2 separate regions of the Homo sapiens genome follow, and region 1 is linked to region 2. Evidence: fine-mapped expression QTL. A gene starts in region 2. The other region holds a variant in brackets. All regions are shown on one strand. Distances are between the middles of the regions. Region 1 overlaps YBX3 (Y-box binding protein 3). Region 2 holds the start of YBX3 (Y-box binding protein 3).

Region 1 (2,914 bases), 26 kb after region 2:
TGCTGGTGCTAAACCTCCAAGTGTCATGATTTAAAAAAAAAAAAAATTTATGTCCTTCTTATTTATTTCTAGGATGAGGGGAGGATAACATTTTTGCTTTCTTATGTGACTCTCTTTGAAAATGTGCAGTAAGAAATTCCTCAAAAATAAAATTTTTACCCTTCAGAGGACAGAATGTTTAATGGGAGTGTATTTTTGCCGACCTTAGCGTGTGTTTGTCTTCTCCACCACTTGATTTACTTGACTTGATTAATAGTAAATTCAAAGCCAAATGTAAAGTTAAGTTAATGCTGTTTCACAAATTTAGGCATATAAGCTTGAGATGATAAAAAATTGGATTCCTGTTGAAATGTACAGCTGGAAATTGACAAGTTCATGTCTGAGTTCAGTAGTAGGCATGAATTATTTGGTACTGTCTCTTTTTGAGTAATCTTCATTCAGTGAGGTGACGTGATGACCTTTAGATTAACGAAGGAGTTAATAGTTCTAACATCCTTCAACTTCCAGCCTGAGGTTTTTACCAGTAACTGCTGTGTTGTAGGTATACAAGGGAGCTCTTTACAACTACATTTCTCCCCCTCCCAGCCATGGTGCCCCTAAGTTGAGAAAAACTATCGCAGCTGTCAGTGCCGTATAGTTACTTTTCAGAACTGCTGCAGCAGTACATATCCAGTGTAGGTTTGTGCTAAACATTATTCTAGTGGCTAGGATGGAACAAACCAACAAAATACCATTGTTTCAATGACCAGGTACATACAGAAAATAAACAAGTATGGAATTTAATTTAGATGGCAATAAGTGCTGTTAAGAAACATAAAACATGGTAGGAGGACAGGGACTGGCATAATCATAGGGGATATGTTGATTTTAAATAGTGGGGAGGGTCTCCTATTTAAATGGAGTCCTAAGGTGAAGGGGCATTAAACATTTGAGTATCTGCAGGGAAGAGCATTGCAGGTGGAGGGAGCATTCTTGGCCTAATAAATGGCAAGCAGGTGAATGTGAACTGTTCAAGAACCTTGTATTATCTTGCAAGTTAAAAGGGTTGGTAAAAATTGGTAATAGGCCAAGGCAAAAAAAAAATCAACTATTTTATTCTATTAAAAAAGGCTCCCATCTTGGTTCCAGTTTCCTCCAGGCAACCAGTTAGCATATCTTAAAAATAGACCCATTTCACATATTTCATGTGTGTGAGTCTCTGTGTGTGTGTGTGTGTGTGTGTGTATGTGTGTGTGTGATTGGCCGACTAATGCAAATTTGAGAAGAGGAAATGAGCTTAAATTGTGCTTATGTTAACAACTTAAAAACAATCATTAGACATATCCATGTTTAAAATTCTATGGATAGTTCAACTATACTATTTAGCCAGTCTTCTTTTTCCTAACTTCCCCTTCTCTCTTCCTGCTCACTTTAAAGCTATTCTAGTATAGAATATTTCAAACATACTTTTTAAAATGTTTTTAAAATGTACGTATACTTTTTGGCACTGATTTTCTTTTTCACCTAATATTTTTCCTATAGAGTCCTCTCATCATTTGTACTGACTATATAACATTCCATTACATAGCTATCCATAATTGTACTAGCCTTCTATCATGGGATATTGAGGGTATCTTAATTGCCATTGCAAACATTTTGCTTGATATAATCCCAACATCCTTACTTCTAAATACTGTCATCTGTTTCAGGATGGTAGCTATTCTATTTCTGGGAAAAAATAAAATAAAATGGAATGATGAATGCAGAGTTGGGGAAAACACACTGGTTGTAGGTACAGAAA[T/C]AACACAAATTGGATGTGATGTGAGGATGGGCCAAAAGTATGTTATTTTACTGGTGAGGGACCTTGGATTGCTTTATCAAGAAATACAGGCTACCGGGGTGAGACCACAGCCAGAAATTAACTAGAAGGCTATCTGTCATACGGCAATCACAACTTAACTCTGTGGTTGTTCATATTTGATGGCACTGCACCTATCAGAAAATAGCACTATGCAAATCAGTATTTGCCTCCTACTATGTGTCAAGAGTGATGGGTGCTTTCAGATCACAAGTAAGTCAGCTGTAACTGTTATAAGGGCTCTTGTGTTTATTGCAAAGATGCAAGTTTTGAAAGCTTTTTGCTCTTAGTGGAGTGGATAAATGTGTTTATAAAGACATGTTTTGAGATTTTAAAGAAAAAATTTAGAGCTAAATTAGATTGAAGCTAGTTTCAGTTAAAAAATGGAAAAGAATCTCAAGATTGATTTTGTATATTATGGCATAAGCATTTTGTTTAATAAGAAAAAGTCTAGAAAGGATACAGGTGCTGATATAAATCTCTGGAAATGTGATCTTGTGCAGTAGCAGAAATAAGAATTCATCAGCTTTGTGATTTTCCCAAAATGCTTTGTGAAAGCATTTCATTTTAACTGATGAGCTAGCTCCAGAATCACCCAGGCTTTCAGAATGGGGATGGTAAGCTCTAATGAATGATCCACACTGGTCAAATAACACGGGGAGCTTAGTTTGCAGATCCCTCCCTATGCCTCTAGTTTGGACAGTATTCTAGTAAAAGGGGTATAGAATAGAGGCATCTGATAAAAGAGACTAGAAATCACCACTTTGTTATTGCCATAGTATTGTTCTTTTATGCATTGATCTCATTGTCAAATTCATGAAGGCTTGCACATAAGGGGTTCCAGGCAACGCCTGTGCCTGTCACATGGACTTGGCACCACTGGTGAAAACTCCCTCTTATCAGTTGAGAACAGAATTTCCCGAGTAATAAAAATTGTGGGAAGAAGTGTGTGTGTGTGTGTGTGTGTGTGTGTGTGTGTGTGTGTTGTTATTTTAAAAAGTTCCTAAGATGTTTTCCAGAATGGCTGTTAAGGGCCAAATTGTGTCCCCCTAAAACTCAAATGTTGAAGTCCTAACC
Region 2 (2,914 bases):
ATTCTTAGAATTAGACCAGCATTTTAAAAGCATCTACATTTATATAACATCACTGTATGCTCCATACTGAAGTCAAACTAAAATATGAATCTAACATTTAAGAGTTTGTAATTTTTTAAATATTGATGAATTACATAGAAAAGCTCAAAATTACATAATTTGCTATTTTTTCAAATAACTTATTTTCTTTGTGTTTTTTGTGGATGAAATAAGAAAGTAAGAATTCAGGAAAGTTTCATAATAATTGATAGCAAATGTGCAGATAAGTAATTGAGTTTGGAAGAATTTGGTCTGTTTTCATTTTGTAAACATTCACTATGTCCAAACTCTGTGCTACGTACTGTACTAACCAGTGGAGATACAAAGATGAATTACACTTGATAGTTACCCTACTGATGTTAAGGTAGACATCGACATTACAGACATATTCCTGGAAAAAAATTTGGTAAATTGTTTGAGGGAACAGGCAATAACTTAAAAAACAAACAAAACAAAGGAGCTTTAGGTGGACCGGACACTGGAGTGACACATGATAATCTCATCTACTTTTCATGTCACCTTTGAGAACCTCTCATAAAGCAGGAAACCGACTCTGGGACATTGAATCTCTGTCCCAAGTTAACCTGGTTAATAAAAAACAAAGCCAGAATTTATACCTAGTCTGTCTGAACCCTAGGGGCCAAATAGTCCTGTATTCCAGACAGTCTTTGGGTACAGATCCCAGACCCTCTGGCCCTGTGTTTACTACCATCCAGCCCATTCTCAAAGGGCATGTGGGCTCTTCAACTTGGGAATAATGTTTATTGGGTGATCTGTTTCTCTATACCTCTCATCCTCGAGGCTAAGAGGGCTCAGTTCCTTAAGCTTTCACCAGCTGGCAGAGGCAACTGGAGCAGAAGGTAGGAAGTGGATTTATTCAGCTTTTTTTGTGTGTGTTCCTTATTAAATATATATTGACAGCTCCTTATTTGTTGCGGTTAAATTGGTGTAAACTCTGAATTTACATTAAATCTGTGAGGTCAATTTCCTCATCTGCGTGTTACAGATGAAATTATCCGTATATTACCTTTCAGGAGTAAGTTGCCAAATAGTCTTAAGGTTTTATTATTCCAGGTCTTAACAGCTGTGCTACGAATAGCTGCTGGTGCTTGATACATGTTGAATGACTGACTAGATGCAAAGGATTTAAAAACAAGTGTTTGAGAGGGTAAAGCGCAGAGTAGTTTGGGTGCCCTATTTTACCTCTCCTTGTCAGCTGCGGGTGTCAAGACGGGTTGAGGGAGGAGAGCCAATGCACCCCGCTCCAACAAAGGGTCAGCAGCGCGGGCTCCTCGGAACGCTCCAGAAGACAACCCGGGCGCCCCGTTCACCCTGGCTTTCCTTGGTTCTGCAACGCGACCCGCGCGCTCGCGTCCCGGCGGATTGGAGCCATAGAAAGCGCACCGGGCGCCTTTAAATGCTAATGAGAGTCCAGGGCCCGACTCCCGAGCCAAGTTTCCCCACCCTCTCCCCTCGCCCGCCCTTCCCTCCCGGGCCGGTGCGCCGCCTAGAAAAACTTGTGCGGGGCCATTTTTGGGGCAGTAAGATCGAGCGAGGAGCCCAAGAGAGAGCGCGCAGCACGAAGCTCGAGCCGCCTCCGCCGCGCGACCCCACCTCGGCCGCCGCCGCCTGCGCCGCGAGATCCGCCCCGGCCTCCCCGAGAGCGAGCCCCGGCCGCCGCGACCACCAGCCGCGCTAACCGCCGACCAACCGCCACCGAGGCGCCTGAGCGAGAGCAGAGGAGGAGGAGGCATGAGTGAGGCGGGCGAGGCCACCACCACCACCACCACCACCCTCCCGCAGGCTCCGACGGAGGCGGCCGCCGCGGCTCCCCAGGACCCCGCGCCCAAGAGCCCGGTGGGCAGCGGTGCGCCCCAGGCCGCGGCCCCGGCGCCCGCCGCCCACGTCGCAGGAAACCCCGGTGGGGACGCGGCCCCCGCAGCCACGGGCACCGCGGCCGCCGCCTCTTTAGCCACCGCCGCCGGCAGCGAAGACGCGGAGAAAAAAGTTCTCGGTGAGTCAGGCCAGGGAGGGCAGGGGCTGCCGTAGTGGGGCGGGCCCAGCCGGCCGCGGAGCACGTGTGGGCAGCTCGCGCTACATCTCCCACCCGGGCTGGAGACGCTGACAGCACAGGGTCCCCAGGGATCTCCGGGTCCCCAGGGGTCTCCGGGTCCCCAGCGCTGGCCGCCTCCCTTGCCGGCGCTCCCAGGTGAGCGCGCTGCGCCCTGCGCTCCTGGCGGCCGTGTGCATCTCCCTTCTGGTTCCGGGCCAGAAAGTTTAGGTCTTAACTTCTGTCTCCCAGACGGGCACTGTTGCGGATTCGCGTGGTGGAAAATGCCTGCGTTTGGAGAAGAAAGGAGAGGCAGTCTGGGAGAGGGGACCTTGGGTAGGGATGGATGTAGGGGAAGGACCGACACGTGGGCCTGGCGCTTTGGGGTCCTTGCTTGGGATCTGGGAAAGGAGAGCATTTCCTTTGGGGAAGAGGAGGGCGCTAGAAGGAGACGGGGAGGGAAAGATAGAAAAGCTTCTTGCCAGGAAGGGTCAGGTGTCTGTCCCTGACGCCCTTCCCACATGGGCATGGGAAAGACGCCATGCTCCTGTTGGCCACATGCCAGCAAAGAGATGTTGCAATCGTCTCCGGGAAACTTGGGTCTTAGTCCCACGTCTTCCTCCCCCTCTCTGTGCCCACGGCTGCAAACAGCCATTCAGTGTCCACCAATGGCTACACGCTTCCCTCTTCCCGGACTGTGGGAACGCACGTGGTGTAGCAGCTGAAAAAACTTTGTCGGAAGTGGGGGTATGACGTTAGTTCAAAACATTGTTACCTTGGCACTTGTAACGTAGGAAGGGAAACAGGAAGATGAAATGTTGAGAT

Evidence for each region.
Region 1: its variant is fine-mapped to the expression of YBX3 in whole blood (INTERVAL, PIP above 0.99).

The regions. Positions count from the first base shown.
Region 1 is chr12:10,696,345-10,699,258 of GRCh38, reverse strand. It overlaps YBX3 (Y-box binding protein 3), which reads left to right. Exons shown (of 10, transcript NM_003651.5): 10 at 1-170. Among named protein-coding and RNA genes, the nearest start is that of STYK1, 24 kb to the right of the region's middle. The variant T/C (reference allele first, on the strand shown) is at 1,781.
Region 2 is chr12:10,721,989-10,724,902 of GRCh38, reverse strand. YBX3 (Y-box binding protein 3) reads left to right here and starts at 1,580. Exons shown (of 10, transcript NM_003651.5): 1 at 1,580-2,053. The coding sequence starts at 1,792. It overlaps LOC124902876, which reads right to left and starts at 1,851. Exons shown (of 2, transcript XM_047429946.1): 1 at 1,243-1,851. The coding sequence starts at 1,793. RefSeq lists silencers at 1,465-1,684, 1,705-1,804, 1,935-2,334.